Regions from separate parts of the Homo sapiens genome. Here regions 1, 2, 4 and 5 are each reported to be linked to region 3. The links are microRNA targets in miRTarBase. Many come from high-throughput screens and were not tested one by one. Region 3 holds a microRNA gene; each other region holds the end of a gene's coding sequence. Distances are from middle to middle.
Evidence for each region. The annotated mature microRNA hsa-miR-608 reads AGGGGUGGUGUUGGGACAGCUCCGU and lies in region 3 at 3,557-3,581, opposite strand. An mRNA with a match to its seed (bases 2 to 7 or 8) in the 3' UTR can be bound and repressed. Matches are read on the target gene's strand: a 7mer-m8 pairs with bases 2 to 8, a 7mer-A1 pairs with bases 2 to 7 and ends in A, and an 8mer does both.

Region 1: miRTarBase lists UCK1 as a target of hsa-miR-608. Seed matches in the 3' UTR shown: 7mer-A1 at 2,871-2,877 and 8mer at 3,618-3,625.
Region 2: miRTarBase lists POLL as a target of hsa-miR-608. Seed matches in the 3' UTR shown: 7mer-m8 at 3,432-3,438.
Region 4: miRTarBase lists PNMA8B as a target of hsa-miR-608. Seed matches in the 3' UTR shown: 7mer-m8 at 516-522 and 7mer-m8 at 373-379.
Region 5: the mRNA of ZNF385A is a reported target of hsa-miR-608. Seed matches in the 3' UTR shown: 7mer-m8 at 2,727-2,733, 7mer-A1 at 2,797-2,803, 7mer-m8 at 3,355-3,361 and 7mer-m8 at 3,541-3,547.

The regions. Positions count from the first base shown.
Region 1 is chr9:131,522,286-131,527,812 of GRCh38, reverse strand. UCK1 (uridine-cytidine kinase 1) reads left to right here. Exons shown (of 7, transcript NM_031432.5): 6 at 1,836-1,884; 7 at 2,592-4,012. The coding sequence ends at 2,773. It overlaps POMT1 (protein O-mannosyltransferase 1), which reads right to left. Exons shown (of 20, transcript NM_001077365.2): 20 at 4,014-4,881. The coding sequence ends at 4,707. Among named protein-coding and RNA genes, the nearest start is that of UCK1, 6.2 kb to the left of the region's middle.
Region 2 is chr10:101,575,791-101,581,432 of GRCh38, forward strand. It overlaps POLL (DNA polymerase lambda), which reads right to left. Exons shown (of 9, transcript NM_001174084.2): 8 at 4,458-4,626; 9 at 3,092-4,027. The coding sequence ends at 3,663. Among named protein-coding and RNA genes, the nearest start is that of POLL, 9.6 kb to the right of the region's middle.
Region 3 is chr10:100,972,939-100,978,580 of GRCh38, reverse strand. MIR608 (microRNA 608) reads right to left here and starts at 3,596; the gene lies at 3,497-3,596. It overlaps SEMA4G (semaphorin 4G), which reads right to left. Exons shown (of 15, transcript NM_017893.4): 2 at 5,545-5,642; 3 at 5,304-5,452; 4 at 4,972-5,034; 5 at 851-949; 6 at 193-286; 7 at 1-54. It also overlaps a transcript of MRPL43 not described here.
Region 4 is chr19:46,491,109-46,496,383 of GRCh38, forward strand. PNMA8B (PNMA family member 8B) reads right to left here and starts at 4,759. Exons shown (of 1, transcript NM_020709.3): 1 at 83-4,759. The coding sequence starts at 4,357. The coding sequence ends at 2,450.
Region 5 is chr12:54,367,467-54,372,865 of GRCh38, reverse strand. It overlaps ZNF385A (zinc finger protein 385A), which reads left to right. Exons shown (of 7, transcript NM_015481.3): 4 at 1,151-1,393; 5 at 1,770-1,939; 6 at 2,145-2,240; 7 at 2,380-3,730. The coding sequence ends at 2,610. The region is part of intron 1 of GPR84-AS1 (GPR84, ZNF385A, ITGA5 and GTSF1 antisense RNA 1); the gene reads right to left. Among named protein-coding and RNA genes, the nearest start is that of GPR84, 5.7 kb to the right of the region's middle.

The DNA.
Region 1 (5,527 bases), not on the chromosome of region 3:
CTTGACCTCCTAAGCTCAAGCGATCCTTCCACCTCAGCAACCCGAGTAGCTGGGCCCACAGGCGTGCACCACCATGCTCGGTTAATTTTTAAATTTTTTGTAGAGATGGGGTCTCCCTGTGTTGCCCAGGCTGGTCTCCATCTCCTGGGATCTAGTGGTCCTCCCACCTCAGCTTCCCAAAGTGCTGAGATTACAGGTGTGAGCCACTATGCCTGGCCTATTGGCTGCTATATAAAGAAAACTTTTGTTTTTTTTTGCATTCATGCTGTCTGAAATTTCTAAAATATAATTTTAAAAGTAAAGTTAACTTGTTTTAGTCTCTCATTCACAGAAAGATATTTGGCAAAAAGTAGGTGATTCGCAGTAAAACTCTGGATATCAAATCTGCCTCAGCGACCTGAGTAGAGGAAGTGCTGTCACCTGCTATGTTCTGGGCCCAGGCCCCAGAGATGTTTTTGGTTGGTTTGTTTGCTTGCTTGTTTTTTGAGACAGGGTCTCCCTCTGCCACCCAGGCCCAAGTGCAGTGGTGAGATCTTGCTTCACTGCAGCCTCCACCTTCCACTCTCAAGTGATCCTCCCACCTCAGGCTCCTGAGTAGCCAGAGACTACAGGCACGCACCACCACGCCTGGCTAATTTTTCCTTTTTTTTTTTTTTTTGCACAGACGGGGTTTTGCCATGTTGGCTGGGCTGGTCTCAAACTCCTGGCCTCAAGCAGTCCACCCACCTCAGCCTCCCAAAGTGCTGGGATCACCGGCGTGAGCCACCGCACCCGGCCCCAGCCCCACCCAGAGCCGTTCTTGAGCCTCCTTTTCCTTCACCTTCATGTTGAGTGGCTTGTGCAGTCCTCTGCCTGGACCCCGTAGGTATTTCCCAACTGTATTCAGGCCCATCCCTGCTGGCGGTTAAGACCCCTGTCAGCTCTCCCGGACTCCTCCAGCCCGTCAGACTATCAGACTAGAATAGAAAGCAGCCCTCGCCCTTGCGCTCGTGCTTTCATGAGATGGGGTCCCACCAACTGCAGACACAGCTGTCCCCAGGACTTGGTCCCTGTCTGCCTCTTGCAGCTTGTCTCTTCTGCCGCCTTCTTGACCCAAATCCACACGCCAGCAGCACGCACCGTTCCAAGTTCCGTCCTTCGGCCCAGACCCTGCCCTCCCTCTTCCCTCAGCTTTGTCTGATTCAGCCATGTTCTCCAGGCTGCTTCCCCTTCCCTAAAGCCACCCCCCAACCCCCACCATCTGGCTGCGGACCCTCCCCAGCAGCCCTGCATTTCCTGATATATCTCCATCCTTGTCCTTCCTCAGCAGCAGAGCATCTGACAGGGAATGAGAGTCAGCATTGAGCCAATGAGTGGTTGGATGAGGGAGTAAGTTACCATCAGCGTCTCTGCCTGCAGTAATTATGCACGGCGGCGGCTGTCCTGTTGCTGTGCCAGGGTATTTGCAGAAGCTTCATGATTCCAGAGGAACAATGTCACACTTTGTAGAAGTGCCACACTTAGCTTGGCCCAGTGAATTGAGTCGTTAGCGTAGCCAGCTGTCTCCTGTAATGGAGTGGGAACACTGGAAGGGGGCTGTCTTCTGTGATGGAATGGGGACACTGGAAGAGGCACTTTCTTTTGGCTGCCTCAGCTGCACTTTCTGCCTCACTTCTTGGATCATGGCCTCTCACACCTGGCTGATGACTGAGTCTGTGTCCCCCATTTGCCGATGACACCAGCACCTCTGAGCACCCCAGGGCCGCCCCTCCTGCTGTTGCATCTGTTTCTGAGCATCTTAAAATCACCTTTGAAGGAAAAGTCCTCACAGGAACACCCCCCCTTGTGCCTTACAGACAAAGAAGTATGCCGATGTGATCATCCCGCGAGGAGTGGACAATATGGGTAAGAAGCTGGCCTGCTGGGCTGTCCCCCCGCCCCTCCCAGAGCTTGAGGCAGGGACAGTTCCACCAGTGTGCAGTTACTGAGCACTCCCCTGCGCACGCGGCCTGCCAGTGTTGATCTGCGGCACAGGGTTAAAATATGCTTAAAAATGTATGTAGCTGGGCGCGGTGCCTCACACTGGTAATCCCAGCACTTTGGGAGGCTGAGGCAGGGGGATCACTGGAGCCCAGGAGTTCAACAGCCTGGGGAACATAGCAAAACCCCATCTCTACAAAAAATAAAATTATTTGGGCATGGTGGCATGTGCCTCTGGTCCCAGCTACTCAGGAGGCTGAGGTGGGAGGATTGCTTGAGCCTGGGAGGTTGAGGCTGCAGTGAGCTGTGATTGGGCCACTGCACTCCAGCCTAGGCAGTAAAGTAAGAACCTGTTTCTTAAAACATATATATATGTATATTCAAATCTGTTAGCAGAAAGTACTTTAAGCAGACTCTAACATAAATTCCTGGAAGACCAAGCTAAGAAGTCTTATTTTGCTGTGTCCTGATGCATGTTTCTGTCTGCTGAGATTTGACTCGATGCCCCTCGCCGCAGGCTGTGCCTCAGGGCAGAGGTTGGGCGCTCACTCCTGGCCGAGTGCTGCGGGGAGGGGCGGTCTCCACGGAGGATGGATGCGGCTAACCCGCTGCTTGTCTGTCTCTTGGCGCAGTTGCCATCAACCTGATCGTGCAGCACATCCAGGACATTCTGAATGGTGACATCTGCAAATGGCACCGAGGAGGGTCCAATGGGCGGAGCTACAAGCGGACCTTTTCTGAGCCAGGGGACCACCCTGGGATGCTGACCTCTGGCAAACGGTCACATTTGGAGTCCAGCAGCAGACCCCACTGAGGGGCTGCCGAGCCTCAGGGCAGGTCTCCCGCCCGGCATGTGTGTTCAGGGACTGAGCCTGGGGACGCCCACCCACACCCACTGCTTCCTCTCGGCGCACCCCAGGGGAGTGTTAGCAGCGAGGCCTTCCTCACTCAGGAGTGGAAACTCAGATGTGTCACTCAGACTCAACTTGCTGGGACACTGACAGGCGTTCCTGAGGTTTTCAGCCACTTAGGCTCGTTGCGGTTTAAAGATCCCTCTAGGTCACTGAGAAATGCCACAGAATGTGCAGGAAGCCTGGGAGGCTTCTGTGAGGAATGTGAGGCACATTATTGGGGAAATTGAGGAGACAGCCTAGACACTGGCTGGCCTGATGTTTTGTTGACAGTGAACCCACAGTGGGAGAGAGTTTTTTCCAGTCTGATCTGGTTCTTACACACTCACACACATAACTCAAAAGTTTTGTGAACAAGTACTTTCCTTTTTTACATGTTACATGTCCTCATGTTTTCTGTTTTCTGTTTCATAACACAAGGCTGGTTGTGGCCTACAAACCTAATTTCATGACCCAGTGGTTTGCAGTCCAGCGTGGCCTACACGGATATGGGGAGCCACTGAGGGATGTTTTCCCCCCTTGCTTGTGCCTTAAAGGCAGAGAAGCGAGGCGGATGCCCTGGAAGCACCCAGCATCACACCCAGGCTTGTGCGGGGCCAGGCTGGGAGCCCATGCAGTAGGGCAGAAGGCAGCGGAGGCCAGGTCTGTCCCGGCTGGAGAACAGCGTCCACGCAGTCCTGCCTGGGGTCAGGCCCTCACTGACCCTCAGGGGAGCCCCCAAGGTGCTGTCTGTCTAGACAGGCTGTCCCACCCCAGGGTGGCTAGTGGCCATATGCAGGGAATGGTGCTTCTGGCTGTGGCACGCACTGGATCACCCAGGTCCCAGCAGACATGGCCGCCCAAAGTCAGCAAGCCTCCTTTGTGCTATGTGGAGCTCACAGCCTCACATGTGAACACCCGTGTCTGGGTTGCCTGGGGTGATCCTCCCTCCTGCGTGGTGGCTGTCTCTGGAAAGCATCCCTTGCCGCTGCCATGGGCAGCCCCAGCCCCCGTCCGTCCAGGCTCACCCACAGTAGTGATGCAGACGTGACGTGGGGGAAGGGGGCTGAGCCCTGTGGCTGGGTTCTGACAACTGTAACGGTTTTGTCGAGCTTAGGCCCCTTTGGAGGGAGAATCAATAAATAACAAACACCAACTACAAACGCCAGTTGGTTCCTTTTTTAATTACATTTAAAAAAGACAAAGGCATGGAGCTGTATGGATGACACACCTTGACCACTGACGAGGAAGATTTCACTCAGCCACGTCTCAGTGGAGTCTCAGAGGGGAGGGTTTCCACACAGCACGGTGCCAAGGGCCAGTCTTGACGCTGTCATAGACAATGACATGCAAGCCCCAGCCCTGGCTCGTGGTTCAGGTGGCCCTCCAACACTGAGCTGTCCCAGGACGCCTGCCGGGCTCGCTGAGGGCAGGGCCGGGACTTGCTCAGGTTGCTGGGTGTTCATGAAGGAGGATCGGGTCTGCCAGATCAAACTCCACCCTGCAGCAGTTAGCAAGGACCAGGCCCTGGTCTGCTGAGGCTCCACTGCTGGCCCTGGGTTCTCGGCTTTTTGTTGTCAATGACTCCTACGCTGGCCTCTGAAATACTCCCTGTGTCTTAGTTCAGGGGTAAAGACACGGAATATCTTTATTGTCGAGAAAAAATTAACTTTGCACAAAAGGAGGTGCTCATCAGAGAGCTTTTCAATGAGACCCCCATGTGTTCCACTAGAGGCCCTGCTCAGCCCAGCCCGTGTCCTCCCAGCGTGGGGCCCACCCTGCTCATTACGTACATTGACCAAGACCCTTCAACCTCATCCCGACCCCAGCACGGGTGTTCTTTGCCACACTCTTGTTCTAGTGTTTTCGGATCAAGATGTCCCAGCTGTCTTTCCAGCGAAGGGCCTTGAGTTCATGTGGCGAGAGTGACTTGTCCCCGTAGGTGAGTGGGCGCAGCGTGTTGGACACGTGGCACGCGGAGGAGTACCAGGCCACCACCAGGGCGCTGAAGATGCTCCTCTGGAGCTGGGACCTGCAGAGGTCAGAGCAGCGTGGGGGAGGGTGGCTGACCACTGCGGCTTCCCTGCCCGGCACCCTCTTGGCATCTGCTGTCCACACGGTCACCCCCCGAGGCCTGGGGTTCTGCCTTCAGGTTTCTGTGTCTTGTCTCCTGCCACCCATGACCATCTCCCACCTGGATGCACTGAGAGGGGCCCCCTGATGACTCCTCAGGCCTCCACAGTGGCTGGGCCACCTCCACACAGATGCCAGAGGACTGGTCCCAAACCCACGGTCCTCCCTTGTGTGGCTTCCTGAAACCGGGAGGCCCTCGCCCTCTGCTCCAACCTCCAAACACACTCTGGTTTAGAAGCTTTCTTGGGTTCTCTCCACCACACCACACAACCCGACCATAACCAGCTGCCGTTTCTGACACCCCAGGCTCCTGGGCCTTGCTCCCTGCTCCCGAATCCTCCAGGCCACCCACATCTCTTCATCCCCTCCCCGTCTCCCCACCCACTCCGCTTTCATCTCTGTCAGCCGCGACTTCTCCCTCTGGGTTCCTGCAGTGCCTCATCTGGGCATCTCTTCTGAACCTCACCCATTCCCCGGAGGGACCCGGAGGATGTCAGTGTAACGTGAAATGGGTGAGGTTCGCTGCACCCCATGTGTTTGCTGCG
Region 2 (5,642 bases), 600 kb from region 3:
GGGGTGGGGCAGAGCAGCCCAGCGGGGACTTGCATCTTGCACAGTGTCAAGAAGAAACTGAAATTAGGGAGGCTCAGACTGAACATGTGGCAGCCCTGGGCTCATGTGAGGCTCCCCCTTCCCCACACACTTCAGAGGATGCCCTCTACCTCACAGCAGGGCCTGCTCACACTTGCTGTCCCTCTGCCTTTGTACAGGGAGAGCCCAACACGCACTCGGTCTATTGGGTTTCTGCAGTCACATTAACAAATTACACCAACTTACTGGCTTAAACACCACAGTCATTATCTCACAGTTCCACCAGCTCAAAATCCAACAGGGCTCCCTGAGATAAGGCCAGACATCAGCAGAGCTGCCATCCTTCTGGAGGCTCTAGAGTAGAAGCTGTTCCTTGGCTTCTCTGACTCTTAGAGGCTGCTCACACTTGGCTGGAGACCTTTCCCCATCTTCAAAGCCAGAAACTTCGCATCTCTCTGACCTTTCCTCGTCAAGTCTCTCTTTGATTGTAGATTGTAGCTTTTTTTTTTTTTTTTTTTTTTTTTGAGACAGGGTCTCACTCTGTTACAACTCAGGCTGGAGTGCAGTGGTGTAATCTCAGCTCATTGGAACCTCTGCACCTCTGCCTCCCAGGCTCAGGTGATCCTCCCACTTCAGCCTCCCAAGTAGCTGGGATTATAGGCACCACTAGGTCTGGCCATGCCTAGCTAACTTTTGAATTTTTTTTTTTTTTTTTTTGGTAGAGATGGGGTTTTGCCATGTTGACCAGGCTGGTCTCAAACTCCCAGGCTCAAGCAATCAACCCGCCTTGGCCTCGCAAAGTGTTGGGATTACAGGCGTCAGCCACCACACCCGGCCCTGACTGTAGCTCTTAAGAACTCATGTTTACACTGGGCCCACAGGATTACTCAGCATAATCACCTCATCTCAAAATGCTTAAGCTTCATCACAACTGCAAAGTCCCTCTAGCCAACTAAGGTGACATATTCACAGGTTCCAGGGATTAAGACATGGACATCTTCAGTGGACCATTATTCTGCCTGCCACACGTGGCCTGTCCAAGGACAACCCTGGCTCAGGGACAGAGTGATGAAGAACTGGGCTGGAGCAGGGAGCAGGCTTGTGGGGTCTCTCTGCCTACTCCAGGCCAGGTGGTGACTGGGTGGTAGGTGTGCGGGGTGCTCAGCTGCTGGACAGGACCCCAGTTACCACCAGGGCCCTGAAATGGAGTCTCTCTCCATTCAGGATGAATGGGAGACTGGGCTGAAAGCCTGTTCGAGAACCTGGTTCAGCGCTAAAGTGCCTGGGAACCCCCAATATTCATATTCCTTGCTTACTTGGACTCAGAGAACCTCATTTCACCTCATTTTACCTCCAAACTGGGCAGCCTTTCTCAAGACTCAGAAATCCCTCCATTAGCTCCTCTGCCTCAGTGGCTCTTCTCCTGGGCTTCTGTGTCAGACTGGGCAGCTGAAGGGACACCCAGATGGGTCACTGGAGGTGGGGCATGCTCCCTCTTTATCCCACGACTTTGTGTTGCCCTGGCCAGGAGGTGGGACCAAGAGTCTGCATGGTTTCAAGGCAGTCTCTGAATTCTGAGTCTCCTGGGGGAAGGAGTTAAGGCAGATGGGGAGGGATGTCAAGAATGGAGGTCAGACCCTGATTTCAGACAAAGAAGTAAGCGGCATCCCTCCCTGCAGTTCTGGGACCTCCCTGTGTGTAGGAAAACTTGGGCGAGCTACTCTATGGCCTGCTGCACACTGGTTCCCTCCACCCCCAGCCCTGGAGGTCCTGTTCCTTGGGCCTGGAGCAGGCTGCGGCAAAAGGAGAGAAGCAACTTCCACATTTGGACCCAGACACGCATCTTTGGACTTCTGCTGACTCCAACTCTTGCTGGGGACAGCAGCAGGCACTGAGGGACCAGTCCAGAGTGGGACCAAAAGCAAGCCTTCACACCCGGGGGCCCAGGCTTTCCCCAGCCCCTCTCCTATCTACCCAGGCCCCCACTGTGGCTCTTGGCAGCCATGTGTCCCTGGCAGTAGACACTCTCAGGGGAGAGGCTCGCCCCTCTAGAAGGCTTCTGGGCTTTTGATTGGCCATCTCTTGGGTTGGTGCTGAGCTGCGAAAGGGCCCTCCAGGTCCTGTGGGCTTCTGATTCCTTTCCCAACATGATCAGTGCTGGGAAGACCCCCTGACTTACACTTCAGGGGTATGAGCTTGAGTTGGGGGGCCTACTCCCAGGCTGCTAGGATCCCATGATCGAGACCAGGCAGACAAAGGCTGGCTCCGGGACTCTGCAAGTTACCAACAGAAATGTAGCCCACCCAGCACACTCAAGGTGGGATCCCCCTGTGGAGCCAAAGCTGCCCTCACGCGTCACCACCCAACTCCCAGCATGGGGCCTCTCCAGGCTCCTCCTCCAATACAGTCTCCTTCTGACTCTGTGCCCACTCCTCCTCATACTTGGGCTGCCTGAAGCTCCTTCCATGACCCCACTCCCCCACCAAGTCTCCCTGCCCTGTGAAACAGCCTCAGGAAGACATCCCGCACTCCCCAGCGGGACCTGCTCCTGTCTGCTCTATCAAACCAAGCTCTGCTTCCAGTCCTCTGCCAGCCCAGCCTGCTCCTGACTCCCAGCACACAGTGTCCTCTCTAAAGCTGTTCCTTAATTGTCCCCAAACAGAGCCTGCTGACTCCTCTCAGAGGCAATTTCCCTGCCAGTCTGCCTCTCTCCTCCTCCGGGAAGCCTTCCCTGGCCGCCCATCCCTGTGTACACGGTCACCATTTAGTTGTTCCTAATGGTTTCCTGAGTCTTGTCACTTTTGCTCATGTCCCCTGATAGCCTGGTCTAAGGTAGGGCCTGCAGAAGATGCTGATGACTAGATAGGAGCTCTGGGTGCCTGGCTCCAACATTCTCCCTGGTCACAGCCACTGCTGTCCTTGCTGTGAGTTTAGGAGCTGACTCAGGCCAGTCCTGTCTGGAGGGCAGTTAACACAGCCTTTCTGGGCTCCTCTTTTCAGTTCCCATCTCTGTCGTCCCTGCCTGGGTGGAACAAGGTAGCCAGAGGCTGCAGCAGCTCAGACACCAGGCAGGTTCAATGTCAAATGCACTTTACTGGGCCCCTGGGCCTCCCAACACTGTCCTCACCAAGGCTGGGGCACCCCATTCCCAGCACCACCAGCTGCCCAGGAAGCAGGACGGATAGAGGGAACACATGTGGAATGGCTGTTCTCCTACCCCAGAGGGTGCCGGATGATGTTGACAGCACGGCTGCTTCCCTCTCCCCTGCAGCTTCTGTCCCCACCCAGCAGCTTGGCCTTTCCCATAGCAGGGAAGGGGGATACCTGGGGCTTCAAACCAGCCACCTGCTCCTGCTTAAAATGGGGCAAGGGGCCATTTGCAAAATTCTTCGAGGGGCAGTGGTGAGGTAGAAGGGGTGGCAGCCTGCTCCTGTCTGGGAGAGGGCTGGGCAGACACTGGGAGCCGGGCAGACACTGGGAGCCGGGCTGGCTCTTGCTTCAGGCCCAGAGCCCTGGGCCCTGCTCGCTGAGGAAGCTGGTGGTTGGAGCGGCGAGGTTCAGCCAGCTGAGGCTGGAGGGAGTACTGGGTGGCCAGGAGGGGTAGCCAGTCCAACTCGGCTCTCCTCAGCACCCCCAGCCATGGGTCACCAGTCCCGCTCAGCAGGTTCTCGGTAGGGGAGGCCTAAGAGCCTGAAGACATCCTTCTCAGTGGGAGTGGGCAGCACTCGGCCAGGCCCCACCTTGCAGCCATGGGTGTTCCGGACCACAGCAGTGCTGAGGGCATGTTCTGACAGACTCATGCCCTTGGTTTTGGCCAGGGCTCGCATGGAGCGGTTGAAGTGTGCAGAGCCGGTGAAGTAGAGCAGGGCACAGGCAAACTCGCTATAGGGCACCACGATGATGTCCAGGCGCCGGTGCCGCCGCCCTGGCCCTGGGAGCCGGCACACCCCCAAGTACTTCTGTTGCTGACCATTCTCCTCTTGGCTCACCAAGTCATCTGTGAGGAACCCTGGCCCAACAGAGGGGACTGCTGGGAGGGCAGGGAACCAGGCCTGGGCTGTCCCATCCTCCCAGGTCTCTCCTGATGTCTAAGCTGGGGCTTGCCCAGGTATTAGCTGGGTGACACTACCCTCTCTGGGCCCTTCTCCTTTTCTGTAAAACATGGATAGTAATTCCCATCTCCCCCATAGTGTCACAGAAAGATCAGATGAGATACTTGGCCTGCAGGGTTCACTGAGCACCTCCACATAGGTGTGGCGGGGCTGTTCCATCTCTCCCTGGAGAGGATTCCGGCCCCGATAGAGAGATGGGATGCTGGCAAAGCACTGTTCCCCTGCTTCCTGCCTCAGGACTGGAACTTCTGAGGTTCTCCCTCTGAGGGGGCCCCCAGACCTGTGCTGCCCTCTGTCAACCTGCTCACCCAGAGATGGAGCTTATACCTTCCTGCCGAAGACTGTCAAGGAGGCGGCTGAAGATACCCCGGTGGGACCGGCCATCTGGGTGAGTGATGAGCACGTCGACATCACCACAGGTCGCCTTTCCCCGTCGGTATGAACCACATGCCACACACAGCAGCCCAGAGTTAAAGGCCTGGGCTGCTTTCTGGACCTGGGAAAGAGAGCGGTGACAGGTGAGGGGCTGTGCGTGGGGAGCTCCTCTCCCACAGCAGTACAAGGGCCTTCCCAGACTCGGGCCCACACCCTCAGCTTATGCCCATTCCAGATGCCTGCTGCAAGCCCAGGGGAATCCACCCTGAGGAGCTGCTGTTCTTTCCCTTCGCTAGGACAGGAGAGAAGAAAAAGCTCACTGTGCAGGAGGCAAGCCTGAGGAGAGACGGGAGAAGGTGCCGGCTCTGCTTCTGAGAGTGGGCACTGAGCTTGCCCTGTGGAGCTCTTTAAGAGTAGGGAGACACAGACTCTCTCTGCCCCTGCCCCAGCCCACGTGCCCAGGTCTGTGAAACTCCACTTAGGACAAGGGGCCAGGTGCTGAAAGCCCTCAGCCAGGTCTAGGCAGCCCCAGATATCTACTGATTTGGAGCTAAAGGTTTGGAATATGTGAGCTGGGGTTTGAGGACTGAGCAGGTGGCTGGCAGCATGCGCCAGGCCCAGGCCCAGGAGAAAGTGGAGCACAGAAATACAGCTGCACCTGTGGGAAAGGAGAGGAAAGAAAGCAAAGAGGGGGCAGTTCTGAGCCAACACCCACATCCTTTCTTGGTGGGGAGGGAGCTGAGACAGCAACTGCCAGCTGAAGGATTGTCCCTCTGAGGAAAAATAAACCCATTAGCCTCCACCCCTGAGACACTGAGGTTCTTTCATATGCAGATGGCCTCCTGCCTCCACCCCAGGACACTGAAAATTCTGGGGCCCCGGACACCTCAAGTATCCTGACAGGAGGGCTCCGCTAATCCCCTTACTCCCTTCTTGAGCCTCCCAAGAGAATGGAAGGAGGAGGTCCACGTGAGTAATCCCATCAAAACTCCTATGGCTGGAGCCCTTAAATGGGGGCACAGGAGGCCAGGTGGGAAGCCTCTTTTGTTCCAATGGGCTGGGTACTGACTGAGGCATTCTCCATGCCCGGACACCATGGCTGAGTGACGGTGTCATCACTAGCACCAAGGCCTGGTG
Region 3 (5,642 bases):
GGATGTCAGGAATGCTCCGGAATTCATACCTAGTGGCTGTGTAGAGGCCTCCATCTGGCGTGGGGATATTCCAGGCATGAGAGACATGTCATATTCAACAGGGCACATGACATATACATGGTGGCAGGTCCTAGAGATGAGATCCACATCCTAAAAATACCATGTCTGTGATAGGGAAGAAGGCCTGCTCACCAATGATGAGGCCTGTGAAGCCACGGGCTGGGTCATAAGGACACTTCTCCTTCCCCTCCTCGAAGCTGGTTGGCAAGGTGAAGGCCTCAGCATCCTAGGGAACAAGGAACCAGCAGTAAGTGGTTCCGAAGACAGGCAGGGACAGTGGCTCAAAGTCAGATCAGTCTGGGGTCAGGGATCAGCGATCAGGGATAGGGGCAGGTTGTATGGCAGATGCACCTGACAGCAATAACTTAAGCATCCCCTGAGAATGACCTTATGGCCTCAAAACAATGTATGTTTGGAGTTCCAAATCTGCAAGTGGCCAACCTAGAGATTCACTCCTTATCTATGAAGAACATCTGAGCCCCTAGCCCATCCTGTGGAACACATGCTGTCCAGGGGATCAAGGCCCTTTGTTTTGGGTTAAATGAAGTTTGCCAGGTGGAGGTGATTAGGGGGAGGATGCTAAGTGAAAATGCTATAAAAACTGCATGGTTTTTACAAAGGGGAATGGTTCTCCAGTGCAGCCCGCCGCCACTGGAGTGCCCTGTATGGAAGTCCCCTTAATAAACCATCCGTCTCCTTCACTGGCTCTGAGTCTCTTCTTTGGCATCTTGAACATGATCCCATCCCTAATGAAGTCAACAGAGATCTGGCACAACACAGGTATACTCACAATGGCTGCACAGAGGGGCTGGAAGGCGTGAGTCCCACATGCATAGAGGTGGGTAGAATTGAGCCGCTGCAGGAACCGCACATGGTTAAAGCACTCCGTCTGTGGGATGAGGTGGAGAGGGCTGTGAGCCCCCTGCCTGACTAGAAGCCTCCTCCATTAGTCTAGCTTTGTAGTTTGGCTCTTGCCCCCACCCACAGGACAAACGGTTCTTTCCAAGATACCTGTGATCCTTCTCACTGCTCCAGAATATTTCCTGGAACTCACTGTCCTTGGCCTCCCAGTAACATGACCCTATTTCTCTCCTCTGTCCCTCAGATTACCTGACACCATTCTGCCAATATCTCCTGTGTCTCTTGCAGTTCCCTCCACCTCTGGTTCAAGAGCTCCCAGGGATTCCACCATCCTGAGGTGCTTCTCCTCTCCCATCCAGCTCCTTCTCAGCACCTCTTTCTATTCTTGGAACTCCTGCCCTCCTCGCTGGGGTGATACAACCAAATCTATCCCTAGATGCCAGCTTGCTCTCCACCCGATATCCCAGGGATGTTTCAAACTCACCTTGTCAGAAGCCAAGTTCATCCCCTCCTCCATAACCTACATCTTTCCTAAACCTGTTTATCCAGTCTTTCCCACCTCACTTCATCCAACCTACGACTCAACCTAGAAGCCAGGGATCATCCTTGCTGCTTCCTACTTCCTCACCCCCACATTCAGTCCCTCTCCACAATTAATTCATTGTCCTAAAAGTCTCTTGACTTGGTCCACTTTGACTCCACCACCAGCACCCAGTCCAAATGACCACCATGACCTCTTCCTTAGACATCTGCAGTTGCTACCTGATAGCTCCTCCCAACCTTCTCTTTTATAAAAACGACTTTATAAAGCTATTTATTCAGTCAATGAATACATGTACATAGTATAAAACTTAGAAAGTACAAAGGGGTATGTTATAAACAGGGAGTCTCCCATTTATCCCTGTCTCCCAGGTTGCCTGCCAAGAAGACTGCTGTTACTATTGTCTGAAGTTTCCTTCCAGAGATATTTTACCAAACAACACACTTTTGCTACTCTCCAACCACTTTCCAAGGGATATTCTAAAAATGTAAACCTAGCCAGGTGTGGTGGCTCACACCTGTAATCCCAGCACTTTGGGAGGCTGAGGTGGGAGGATCACTGGAGCCCAGGAGTCCAAGACCAGCCTGGACAATATAGCAAGACCTCATCTCTATGTGGTGGCATGCACCTGTAGTCCTAGCTACTTGGGAGGCTTAGGCAAGAGAATTGTTTGAGCCCAGGAGGTCGAGGCTGCAGTGAACCACTGCACTCCAGCCTGGGCAACAGAGTGAGACCATGTCTGAAAAAAAGTCAAGTGGATCACACCACTGTATCGGCTCATCAGTGACCTGAATATAGAGTCCCACATGCTCCTAGCCCTGTGTGATGGGACTCTGCCCATTCCTCTGGTCTCACTCACCCTACTCCAGCCACACTGGTCTTCTCTGCCTGTCAAATGCCCTCAGCTGCCAGCCTCTTGACTCCTTTGCCACGTTAATGATTCCTCCTCTTGCCTGTTACCCAGGGTTTAAATCCATACAGGCCTCTTTGTGTCTCCTCCTGCTCCCTCACCTGGTACAAGCCACTACCATCTGTCCCCCGTCTCCATAAGCCTGCTCAGGCCCCTTCCTCTGACCCAAATGATGCCCCCAGCCTCCTCACTGCTTTTCCTGCCTCCAGACTCACCCTATTTTCATCCATCCAGTGCCTGGGGCCAGATAAATATTCCTAAAGTGATGTTTCCCCAAGATGTTTATTTATTTTTTTAATTTTATTTTTTTTGAGACGGAGTCTTGCTCTGCCGCTAGGTTGGAGTGCAGTGCATGATCTCAGCTCACTGCAACCTCCGCCTCCCGGGTTCAAGAGATTCTCCTGCCTCAGCCTCCCGAGTAGCTGGGACTACTACTCTCAACACCATGGTGATGTGACTGGGACTACTACTCGCATGGATGTGCATCACCATGCCGGGCTAATTTTTGTATTTTTAGTAGACACAGGGTTTCACCATGTTGGCCAGGCTGGTCTCGATCTCTTGACCTCATGATCCACCCGCCTCGGCCTCCCAAGGTGCTGGGATTACAGGCCTGAGCCACCGTGCCCAGCGGATGTTTACATTTTTTAAAGGGGGGTAGGGAGGAATTCTCTGGTCAAATAACTTTGGAAACCACAGGTGAAACCTATCTTTACTGGGCTTACTTCCTAGAGCCTGAAGGATGTTGCTGTGCATTGTGGGACTGGGCATGTAGTGTTTCCCAAACTCATTTGACATTTAAACCCCTCCTTTGAAAATTAATGTTCCTCAGAACATGCTTTGGGAACTGTTCTATAAAGCCTTGCTATCCAAAGTGTGGTCTGGGGACCAGCAGCATCAACTTCACTTGGGAGCTTGTTAGAATTGCAGACTCTTGGGCCCTTCCCCAGACCTACTAAGTTTAGCATCTGCATTTATAATATACCTGGGTGATACATTAAAGTTAGAGCCTCTAAAGTATCAAATTCTGAGGGTGTTCACTGTCACAGAATAAAACCCAAACTCCCAGCTGGGCATCTGTGGCCTTCCATGACCTGGTTCCATCTGCCTCCCCAGCCCCATTTTCTACCTGTGCTGCACCAAGAGGCAGCCTTTGATGGAAGCTCTTGGAGATGCCTTTTTAAACGGAGCTGTCCCAACACCACCCCTGGCCCACCTTGGCCCAGTGGATCTTGGGAATTTTTTTTTAATTATTTTTTATTAGAGATAGAGTCTCATTATATTGTCCAGGCTGGCCTCGAACTCCTGGGCTCAAGTGATCCTCCTGCCTTGGCCTCCCAAAGTGTTGAGATTACAAGTGTGACCCACCATGCCCAGCCCAGGGCCGTTTATTTTGTAAAAGCTCTCCAGATGGAGCCATTACCTAGCCAGACATGGGACCCCTGGAGACACCCTATTCTTTAGCTGGAAAGGGCTGATGCTTCATTAATGCCTGTCCATGGAATACTGGGTATTTGACCTATTCCTTGACCAAAGACTCATTTTTCTCATCTGCAAAATGCAGGATAATACTATTTCATAGGGTTATTTTAGAATTAACTGAGATAATAGCTAAATCATCACTTGCTGTAGATAGTTGCTGACTTAACAATGGTTCAATTTATTATGATGGTTTTATTGGTAAGTAACCCATCGTAAGTAAGCATCTGTAGAGGTTACTTACTGTTTTTTGTTGGTTTGTTTTTTTGAGACAGGGTTTTGCTCTGTCATCCAGGCTGGAATGTGTGGCTTAATTATAGCTCACGCAGCCTCAACCTCCCAGGCCCAAGTGATACTCCCACTCAGCTTCCCAAGTAGCTGGGACTACAGGTGCACGCCAGCATACTTGGCTAATTTTTGTATTTTTTTTGTAGACAGATCTCGCTGTGTTGCCAAGGCTGATCTTGAACTCCTGGACTCAAGTTGTCCTCCTACCCTCAGCCTCCCAAAGTGTTGGGATTACAGATGTGAGCCACCGCGTTCAGCCTACTTATTGCCATTTTGATTATTTGGGATCCCAGAGGAGATGAAGATGCCACTGCGGGACAAACTAGTAGGCCACCAGATGGTTGAATTAGAAGTACTGTGCCCAGATGCCGGGGGCAATGGCTTACATCTGTAATCCCAGCACTTTGGGAGGCTAAGGTAGGGGGACTGCTTGAGGCCAGGAGTTCAAGACCAGCCTGGGCAACATAGCAAGACCCTGTTTCTACAAAAAATAAAACACTTAGCTGGGCGTGGCATGTGCCCGTGGTCCTAGCTACTCAGGAGGCTGAAGTGGAAGGATCCCCTGAGCCCAGGAGTTTAAGGCCACAGGGAGCTATGATCATGTCACTGTACTCCAACCTGGATGACAGAGTGAGATCCGACCTCAAAAAAAGAAAAAAAAAAAAATGCTGTGCCCATGGCTTGCCACTCTGGCAATACTTACAATGTTTACTGTGGTTGCTGAGATTGACTGGCAGGTCTGTACCTACCCATCTGTGTCCCCAACAATCCTGGCATCCCTGATTGAGGAAGAAGGGGAGGAAAGGAGCTGGGGACAGGGCAGACCACATACCTGGTTGTTTTTCCCTTTTTGATGACATTTGCTTTGCATCTCTGGGGAGGCTTCCCAGTGGATCTAGTGGAGGCAAAGGGAATAGGCTGATGCACTGACCCCAATACCTATTACTCATAGGACCAGGCAATAGGACCCCACAGAGTTGGGGAAATTGGGGTGGGGATCAATTTCAGGAGGAACACTGAATGCAAGGAACACCTGGGCTGGGAAGGGCAGTGCTGTCTGACCAGGGGGCTATGGAAGGCTGGCAGGGTTTTAAGGAAGTTGAGGTCCCAGGGAGCTGGATAAGCATAGAGACCCTCTGGGTGGTCCAGGTTCCAGGGCCTGACCTCTTTGTGAGCCCCATCTCCTATGTCGTTGGCACTGAGAGAGAACAGGGCACCTCGGGCTCCCACCAGCAGCCTTGCTGAGGCCTCCTCCAGCAGCAGTGTTGAGTAGTTCTGGGCTTGGCCCTTGAAGTGCCGGGTCCCAGAGAGCTCTGGGGAGAGCAGGAACAGTGAGCCCTAGTTCTGGGGTGCCTCCCCACCCCCAGCCCTGGCTTCTGCTGCCTTTTGAGGTTGAGGGTCTAACCTTCATAGGGTATGGTCATCCGAGGGGTGGCATCTAGTTCTCTAGACGGTCTCCGCAGTGAGGGTCCTGGGACTGCAGTTGCTGTGAGGATGCTGAGG
Region 4 (5,275 bases), not on the chromosome of region 3:
TCCTGCACCAGCACCGTGCAATGCGGTAGCCACTGGCCACGTGTGGCTCTTGAGCACTTGTGACGTGGCTGGGAAGACTGAGGACATGCATGTGTATTTTTATTTAATCTTAATTACATTTAAATCCAATTTACCCCGTGTGATTACCTAGTTGAACAAAGCATGTCTAGACAGTCCTAAGAACTGCAGATATGACGGCACAGGAAGGAGACCTTGGGGGATCTGGGGAGGCGAGGGACGCAATCAGACCCCAGGTGTGACTTCTAAGAGGACGTCTCTGGCAGCCATGTATGGTGGGGGGACACAGGATGGAGGGAGGCAGAAAACTCAGGTAGGATGGAAAGCTGAGTCTGAGGTCCAGGGCACAGGTGAGGGGTGGAGGCTGGGGGGAGAGTGCCTGCAGCTGTGGCCTGGCAGAGTGTATCTGGGTGGAAGCTAGGGTGGGGATTGGCTGGGCGGGGTCTCCATGGGTGTCCAGGGGCTTCGGAGCTGAGGCTGGAAGTGGGGAGGCATCAGGGGTGGGAGTGGAAGCTGGCTCAGATCTGCAAGGGGTGAGATGATGCTGGGGGGTAGGGAGAGCCAGGCAGGGATCCCGAAGCAGCAAAGGACAGTGTATGTAAACCAGTGACAGGACAGTTCCCAGGTATTCTGGGCAAACCACAGTCAAGACCGTGGACATCTGTGGCCCACGCTCCCACACCCCGCCTGCCCCACTGCCCAGAGCACAGAGAGAGTACAGTGCTGAATTTCACTTTACTGGAGGATCCAGGTGACACAGGGCACAGGGAGAGAAGCCTAGGACTGCTACGGGAGAAGCACACCTGGGGCCCTCCCCACCCACAGGCAACACCACAGGCTGCTGTGCCCAGCTCAAGGTACACCCAGCCTGGTCCTCAGTGGGTGGGTCACTGTCCAGGGACAGCCTCCAAGCAGAGGGGAGCACCCACGCCCTGCAGCAGGTCTCAGTCAGCTTCTACATCTGGGTGTCCCTGACATAGGACTGGGACAGTCTGGTCTGGACTGTGAGGTCACACCCAAACCCTCCTATTCCTTCCCAGGGACAAGTGGGGCAGGGCCCCCTGGCACGATGGGCTCCTCACTGCCAGGGAATGGAAATTGGGACGAGGAAGCACACACATTGCCCCAGGGACAAGAAGGCATGAATGAAGGTGGGGTCCCGTGGAGACTGATATTTAGGTAAAAATCGAGCTCAGCCGGGGTTGCAGGAGCTGAAGCATACGGCACGGCACGGCACAGACTCACATACAACTCAAGCGTGCTTGGGACAGCAGGTTGTGAAGCCTCACAGCACCGGCCCGCCTACTCTGGAACCTCCAGGGCAGGGCTGGGGTTTCCTCCCCAGGTCATTTCATCCCCTGTAAGGAGGGACACGCGGCCGGCTTCTGCACTGCCCAGGTGAGCCTCTGTCCCTCACAGTGCCCTTCGGGGCCCCTCTGGCCTTTAATTCACTCAGGGGGTGAACCCAGGGACTTTCAAGTCTTTTAGTAAGGGCTGCAAGGCCAGCGCTGAGCGGTGGGTCAGCTCCACTGGAGAGGGGGCACCCAGGGGAGCCACAGCCTATGGGAGGGGCCAGGGCCCACTCAGCCCAGAAGAACCAAAACTGGATTTTAAGTGAATTACCCCAAATTGAACACCTCTGCAAATAATTAGAATGTTGGGAAACACTGCAGTCTGAGTGACAAATTCAACTTGTGGTCAGGGGCAGGTGGCCTTGGCCTGGGGCTGGTTCCTTTGTTATCAGGGGCGCCCCAGTAGGCAGGGCTGGCATGTGTCTTCCCTCTGCTCCCCCCTCCCCCTCCTCCTCCTCTTTCCCTTCTCCCACCGTTCCTCTCCCCTTTCCTCCTCCTCCCCTTCCCAACCGCCTTCTATCTCTCAGACTTTCCTTTCTGGAATCATCTCTTCCCCTGGCTGGGAGCTGGGGCCTCCCCTGGCTGAGAGTTGCGCCCTGACACGCGCTGCGCGGCTGGTGACTGAGCCTCCACCACAGACCCAGGGCCCAGTCAGACTGGGGTAGGGGCGACAGCGGCCTACAGCACCTGCCAGGCGCAGGCCCCGAGAGCGCCACGAAGAGCCCTGCTCGCCTCTGCAGGTGCCCGGCGTCCACACACACACCCCCTCCGGGGGCAACCCGGGCCCCCAATCCTGGTCCACTTGGCGCGTCCCCATCTCGGCCCTGCGCTGCTGCCTCGGGCGCCCACTTCTCTTTCCTCCTCCCATCCGGGCTTCCTCCGTCGGGATCGCTGGCGCCCCCGGCCTGCGAGGGCCCGAGAGGGGAACGTGACGCTGGCAAAACGCGGCCCGGGCGCGCTGTGAAGCGAGGAGATTGCGTCTGCGGAGGACAGGAAGAGGGGAGGGGAGGGCGGGGGCCACAGGCGGGCGGGTGCCCTGCGGGGCCTGCTCGCAGCCTGGGCGGCTTCTTGGGGGGCCACTAGCGGCATTTAGGGGGCAGCCTCCGGCCCCGACGGGCCTTCTTCCCGCGCGCGGCCTTGGATCCAGTGGGCGCCTGGCCCTTGGCCTCGCCTGCCCTGGCATGGGCCCCGGCGCCCGCGCTCCCCTTCTTCTTCCTGCTTCCTGCGGCGTCGTCCTGGGCCGAGCCCCGGCTCCCGGCTTTCTTCTCGGGAGTGACGCCCCGGCCTCGGCCTCGGCCGCCCGCGCGGGTTTTGCGGGCCCCGGAAGCGGTGGGAGGCGCGCCGGCCGGAGTCAGGCCCCTGGGGGCCGTGCGCGCCCTCTTGGCCCGGGGCTTCCTGGATGCCCTGTCCTCCGGCTCCGACGCCTCGCTCTCGGTGTCCTCCGACTCCTCCTCGGACTGTTCGTCCGAAGCCTCCTCCGACCCCTCGTTGGACCCCATGTTCTCCCGGGCGGCCAGGAGCGCCAATACCTCCCCCAGTTTGCCTTTGGGGTATTTGTACTTCCCGCCTTCCCAGGCGTTTTCTTTTTCCTCCTTCATCACCTCCGCCATGTCCTGGGCAGCCAGGAGCGCCACCAGCTCCAGAAGACCCCCTTCGTCCTCACGGTGCTCGCTCCAGCCCCCGAAGAGGCCACGCCCAGCCTTCTTCGCCTGGGGAGGGAGATCCGGCTGCGCCAAGGTGGAAATGCACTCCCGGAGGTCCCCGTCATCCCCGGCCTTGCGCAGGACCACGGCGTCCACCTCGCGGCCCGCCTCTTCCACCTTCACGCGGGTCCCGTTAGTGTCCTTGGACATGACGGACAAGACCTGTCGGAGGGGGTCTCGCTTGTCTTTCTCGTCGCTCCAGCCCAGCGACTCGATAACAGAAGCGATTTTCAACATCTCCTCCCGGGCCCAGGGGTCCGACGGGTCGGTATAGGCCACAATGGCCACGAACTCAGGATTATCCAACTCCTCTGTTTCTTGGTCCCCACTTTCCTGCGAGTCGCTCTCCGAAGTGTCGCTGTCCACCGGCTCCTCGTCCGGGGTGTCTCTCACAGCCAGCAGGGCCACTAAGTCGGGGACACCATTTTTGTCTTCTTTGGTGTTCAAGCGGATGGATTCGGCCCCAGCTGGCTCCTTCTCTGCCTCTTCTTTCTTCGATTTGTCGGTGACGGTGACCAGAGCCAAGAACTCGCGGGGACCGTCTTCTTCCCCCTCGGAGTTGCAGGGCGCCCACTGCCTAACCAGCTCCCTGGCAGCGGCCTGCAGCGTGGCGTACAGCGCGCTCTGGTCCTCTTCTCCGCTCAGGTCGCCCTGGTCGATCTCCTCGATCACGATGCCCAGGCTCTCGTCGGAAGAGTCCTCGGCCTCACTCCTCGCGGGAGCAGACGGCCGTCCTCCTCGGCTTCTCTTCTTGCCCTTCTGGGTCAACCTGTTGCGTCTGGTTCTGTTTCTGCGACCCCGACGGCCCCTCCTTGGGTTCCTGGCTGCCCCAAGAAGCGAGCCAGCCTGCCCTGTTACCTCCCCAGAATCCTGGGCCTGCGTCTCCGAAGCGGGAGGGGTGGGTGCCTCCCCGGGGGTCCCAGCCTCCGCGGCCTGCGTGGGCCCGTCATCCAGCAGCAGGCGTCTCATCTGCCTCAGGACCCTCGTGTCCTGCGCACGGTCCTTCCACAGAACCCTCCAGACCCCATCCTTGCCTGGGATCTCCCTGGGAATGGCAGCGTGATTGACGTCCTCCACAAACTCCACCAGGGCGGCCTGGGCCTTCTCGTTCATCAAAGCCTTCATGTGTCGCAACCTGAACGTGCCCAGGGGCAGGAGGGTCGGCTGCAGGACGGCTTCGACGTCTGCCTGCTCCAGGCCCTCCGGGATGCCGGTGACCAGCAGGGCCCTGTGCGCGTCCACGTCCAGGCTCCGGCACCAGTCCTGCAAAAGGCTCATGGCCATGGTGCAGCCCCCTTGGCGCTGATCTTGGGGCAGCAGGGAGCCCGAGATAGGGGTGGGCTGCAGCGCACGGTGTCAATGCAACCCTAGAAAGCCACTTGCAGGGCTTAGAGTCCCGGTTCCGGTGAATGTGGCAAGGCTGGAGTGGGGCTCGGGGCTCGGGGGCTCTAGCTGCCTGCTGGCCGGCTGGACGCAGTGACCTTCCCCCGGGACCCCTCTCCAGAGCTGTCTGAGGATCCGCGGGGGGCTTACGTGTCTGCTTTCCAGGACAGCTCCCTCCCTCTCTCCCTGACACAGGCCTGAGTGACTCGGCACCGCAGCCAGGTGCAGGGGGGCGGCGCCGAGTGCACCTGGAGAGGCGTGGGAGGTAGCAGCCGCAGCTTGCCTGGCGCTCGCGCCGCGTCTGAGCGCGCACCCTGGGCCTGAATCTCAGCAGTTCCGCTGCGACGCGGCTGCTCGCGCGTGCGCCTGCGCAGAGGGAGCCGCACACCCTCCCCTGTCCCCCGCCCAACCGTCTCCATGGCAACGGTGCAGCCTTGAGCTGGGGTCTGCGTCGCTGTGGCCTGAGACGCTTTTCTTAAAGGTCCCGATGACAAGGACTTGGGGCCTGGAAGCACCACTTTCATTAACCAGCAAAAAACAAGGCCGAAACCACAGAGGGCCAGAAATCACTCAAGGATACCCGACCTCATTCAGGGGATAGAGGCCTCCTTCCAGAGGGTACCGGCATCACTGGGGGTTACAATTCCCCCTTCCAGGGGCCAGGTGGAATTCAGGATTATATAGGCCTAAATCAAAGGGCACTGGCCTTGCAGCGTAGGACCAGGACTTACTCGGGATACTGGCCTCATTCACAGTATATGGGTCTCAGTATCAAATAGGGGGGCCCAGGCACCACCTGTGAGCAAGACACCATTCAGG
Region 5 (5,399 bases), not on the chromosome of region 3:
GGTTTCACCATGTTGCCCAAGCTGGTCTCAAACTCCTGACCTCAAGTGATCTGCCCACCTCAGCCTCCCAAAATGCTGGGATCACAGGCATGAGCCACCGTCCCCGGCCACGGGAAGCTGAGTTCTAATTGTACTTTGGCTGCTTCTTAGCCTGATCATCTTAGTTTGTTAACATCTCTGTAAGATGGAGAGGAAGAGGATGATGATGATGATGGTGATAGCTAACATTTCTTGAATAGCACTTTACACATATTACCTCATTTAATTCCTACAGTATCTCTGAGGATATAGGCAGGATAACTATACCTGCCGTGCTTTATAAACCATGAAGTCCTGTCCAGACTGAGATGTGGATGTGCTGTCTGGATTGGGATGGAGGTGAAGAATGTCAGAAAAAAGTAAGAGAAATAAGGGGAAGGACATAGGATGAACAAGCAAATGGGTACCTGGAGGGGTGAGGAGTTCCCCTCCCACAAGCTCCCCACCCCCACTGCCAGCCTCGCCATGACCCGGAAACTGGATCAGCTGCTGGAGCAAGAATGGGAGCGCTAGAGTTTCCCCTGTACAGAGGCCAGAACCCAGCACTGAGGCCTAGGGCCTGTGCATCTTTAATCAAGCCATGAATTATAGAGCAGCCTACATCCCTGTTTCTTCCCTCTCCGGTTCTGATGTTTCTATTTCCCTTTTGCCATGCCTGTGTTTATCTCTCCAGACCTTTCCTCACCCTGCCTCTGCCCCTTCCTAGGGCTCTTTCGTGTACTTCCTGGGGGCTGGGCAAGACTCCAGGAAGGGGCTGTCCTGGCAGGAAGCCCAGACTGGCTGGCAGGCCACTGAGGGGTATATCCTTGTTGCATGCCTCTCCCCCTGGCTGGGCTGGCTGCCAGCTTCACCCTGAAGGTAGGCTGGTGAGGCTGGACCCCTTGGCCATTCCCAGCTAATGGAGAATGAGCCAAGCATTGGAGTTTCACACCCAGCCTGCGGCAGCTGGACCACATCTGGCTCTGGACCAGGGCATGAGAGCATGCATGTTGTAACAGGGTGGGGACTCCTGGTCCCTTGCCCTCCAGGAAATGGGGGGGGTCTCTTCCACATGAAGAGTCTTCTCCAAGAGCCATCTAGGGTGATCCCCATGTTTCTCCCCCAACAACAGTTTCCATGGAGAATGGACTGGGGCCAGCCCCAGGATCCCCAGAGAAACAGCCTGGCTCCCCATCCCCTCCCAGCATTCCGGAGACTGGTCAGGGTGTAACCAAGGGTGAAGGGGGGACTCCAGCCCCGGCTTCCTTGCCTGGGGGTAGCAAGGAAGAGGAGGAGAAAGCCAAGCGGCTGCTCTACTGTGCTCTGTGCAAGGTGGCTGTGAACTCCCTGTCCCAGCTTGAGGCACATAACAAAGGTATGGACTCCCCTGCCCCCACCCAGACTCTCCTGTCCTCAGGCCACCCCTGCCTCTACATCCTAATGCCCCTGGCTTCCAACATCCCTAGACCATCTAAGACCTATCAGCCTATCTGCCTGTCTCCTTCTCCAGCCATCTCCCCTGTTCCTTAGCCCTTTACTTCCTCAGCTCCTCCCTCCATCTTACTCCTTTACCTATGACTCTCTCCTGATCCACCTCTTTGGGAGGGTCCCAAGGAGCTTAGTTAGAAAGAACCCACACTGTGCCCACCCTCTTCCCCCTCATATTGTACCTGGGAATGTGCATTCTGAGGCCCAGTAGGCCTGGATAATTTTTCTTCCACCCCTTACCTCCTGCCCTCTCTGGGCTCCAGGTACTAAGCACAAGACAATTCTGGAGGCCCGAAGTGGGCTCGGGCCCATCAAAGCTTACCCTCGGCTGGGGCCTCCCACCCCGGGGGAACCAGAGGCTCCTGCCCAGGACCGAACTTTCCACTGTGAGATCTGCAATGTCAAGGTCAACTCGGAGGTCCAACTGAAACAGGTGGGTCTAAGGCCCTTCCCAGGAATTCTGGGACGCTCCACCCGCTAAGTGGGGAAGGGGAGCAAGGAGCTTGAGTAAAGGCCCTTCTTCAGAGTTTTCCCCAGGGGGCCAGATGGGAGGGGGCCGGTGCTTGGAGCTTGATTATACTCCCTCGCTGTTGCCCCTTTCCGGGAGCTCACAGCCCCCTATCCACTGGCCCCCGCAGCACATCTCCAGCCGGCGGCACCGAGACGGCGTGGCCGGGAAGCCCAACCCACTACTGAGCCGTCACAAGAAGTCTAGGGGCGCCGGGGAGCTGGCGGTGAGGCCTGGATGCTGGGAATTCAGCAGTGGGAGGGCGCGGGCGGGGAGGAGAGAGGGACGCGGGCTTTGCCCAGGGAGAGGTGGGGTTTGCAGGACCGCCGGGTGACTTCTCTTCCTCCGCCTTTCGCCCGCTTCAGGGCACGCTGACTTTCTCCAAGGAGCTGCCCAAGTCCCTGGCGGGCGGCCTGCTCCCCAGCCCCCTGGCGGTGGCTGCAGTGATGGCAGCGGCAGCAGGCTCGCCGCTGTCCCTGCGCCCGGCTCCAGCCGCACCTCTTCTCCAGGGACCGCCGATCACTCACCCTCTGCTTCACCCGGCCCCCGGACCCATCCGAACTGCGCACGGACCCATCCTCTTCTCCCCGTACTGACCTCAACCCTGAACCCCTCCCATTCAACTCCCCACCTCCAGCCGGGACCCAGGCGTCCGGGCTCCCAGCCCGCCCCTCCTCCCGGCACTCCCTAAATGATCTCTCCTTCCCCCCCCCCACCCCGAGATACGGGGTTCCAGGAAAGGGGAGGGGTAGCGGGGGAGGGGGGCTTCAGAAGGGGGGGAACACCCCAGATCTCAGGGAACCCCGCCCCCTGCCTTTCCCTCTCCCCTAGAAAAGGGGGGGCCGTCTCACCCCCGAGCCCCCTTGGAGACACCCCCCCTCCCAAAAGCCATGTCCATCCAGCCCTTCCCCCCAAACCTAGCACAAAACGGGGTTCACAAGCCATGGTCGGGGTCCGGGGGGGACAGAAATGGATTTTCTTGGCAATAAGCGGACTCTGGGACTCCGGCTCCCTACCCCAAACTGAAGCGCTTCCGTGAACACCCCCGTCCTCCGTAGGGGGAGGGGAGCAGGCGGGATCCTGGGTCCCTCATAAGCACTTTGGTTTTACCGCCTGCAACCTCACTGTGCCCGCCCCGCACCATGCCCTAGCCCCAGGTCTAGCCGGGCCCATTGCAGGGGGCAGCACTTGGGGGCATCTCCGGCACTTGGGTGGGACCAAGGAGATGCCACCATAGACCTTTCCCTCGCCTTCTTCCTCCCTAGTCCGGGTTCCATTCTTTTCACCAGCACCCATCGCCCAAGGGGTACCGAGGGGGGCAAGGGGTGTCCAGTCCAAGCCCACCCCCGCCTCGCCTTCCGCAAAACTGTGAGCAAAAAGCAATAGAAGCCTCGCCCCCGCCCTTCCCCTTCGCAGGATTCGCCGAGTCTGTAGCCTCCCCGATCCAAGTTCCTAGACCTCATGGCTGTCCCCTCCCACCAGTCACCTCCACTGCACAACTCGGGCGGGGGTGTGACACCTCTCCCCCACCCCCGACTCCGTGGTTTCCGTATCGTCAACCCTTCAGCCGCCGACCCGGGAGGGGTCTGGCCTACACTGGTCTTCCCCTTCCCATCAACTCTTTCTGCTTGACAATGTAGCAACCCAGGCCCCCCACCCACGGTCCTCCCCTTTTTCCTCTCCCTGACAATAAAGTCTGAATTTGTTCTGCCCTCCGCCCCTAGACTCAGACTCTGTCTTTGCCCGCTGTTTTGGGAGCAATTCTGTCGTTAAATGTATCTGTATGGGACCGGCACAGAAAGAGGAAAGGGAGCGAGAAGGAGGAGGGAAACGGAAATCGGGGGTGGGGGAGGCAAAATATGAGGCTTGTGCAGAGTGAGCAGAGGCTCCCCATCCCACCCACGCCCACTCTCGTCCAGCTCGTGTAAACTTGGCCTGGGGGATCATTTCTAGTCCAAGTCTGGGACTGCAGCTGCAGCTGTTGAGAATTTGCCACAACTCCACAAGGCGGCGCCAACGACCCGGAAAAGGAGTCTAAGCCCGAGGCTAAGCCGCTCCTGTAATGTGTTTCGAGATTCCACGCAGATGGGTCTAGACTCAGTCTCAGACAAAGAAAAGAATCCAGGCTTTTGTGTGTCTGGTGGGAAACCCACGCCAGCGAGACTCAAGGCACAGGAAGAAACGGGGGGCAGAGACTGGGGATCTGAGCTCTAGGCTCTGGCCCCACATAAATAGTGACCTTGAGTCAGTCCTTGCCCTCTCTGGACCTCAGTGTCACAGTCTTCAAAATAAGGAGACTTGAGTCTTTCAAAGGTTCATTAAGATCTCATGTATCCAAGACTGAAGAACTGAGACTGTGCCATTTACAGATATACTGGAATACCTTCTCAACTGGCCCCTAAATGGTCTGTGGAACAGGGAAACACTGTTCAGCTGTCTCTCACATGGTATGTGAGGAAAATGGTTTCTCCGTTATCTCCAAAATGTGGTTCAACCATACACTCCCAAGAGCAGCCAGTAATCCTGACCCCCTCTATCCCTACTGAGAGGCAGGAAGTTCAAACAAAAAAGCCCAAACCAAAACCCAGAATCTATGTGAGTTCCTCCCGACTTTCATCTCTGCTCACTTCCCCCACTCTACCCACTTCCCAGTCTTGCAGAAGAAAGGAGGAGGGAAGTTGGGATGATGTCTGTTAAACAGGAAAGAGAGGGGAATGGGGGACTCCTGGGTTTGTCAACTGTGAGGCTGAAAGGAGGGTGTTCACTGTGGGTTCAGAATTGGAACCCAATAAGGAGTGTTTTGGTGTTTGTTTGCATGTTTGTTTCCAGGTAAATCTAGCTTTAAAAGGGGTGGGAGGATTCAGAAGGATGCGGGACAAGAGAGGCCCTATAGAAGAGTGGGTAGAGAAAAGCAGGGGCTGGGTCACATGTGGGGAAGGAGATAGGGACTGGAAGAAATTGGGGTTAGAGAGTCTGGGATCCTAGCAGACCCCACAAGTACTTCAAGTCTGCTAGTTTAAAACTGAATTCATTATTTACCCCTTTCCCTAAGCCTGCTCCTCCTCCCACATTTCCTATCTTATTAAGAGCACCACCATCTGTCTGGAAAACAGAAAGTTATCCTAGTTCCTCCTTCTTCCTAACTCTTCATCCAATGAATCACTAAATAAGTCCTATTTGACCTCCTAACAACCTATGGATCCTTATCATTCCTCCATTCCCACAACCACTGCCCTAACCAGGACTGGCTCCATAATTTGTGGGACCCAGTGCAAAATGAAAAAGCAGAGCCCCTTATTCAAAAAGTATAGTATTAAGAATTTAAAAACAGTGATTGACGAGCATTTAACCAAGCACCAGGCCCTTCAAACTGCAAGGCCCTATG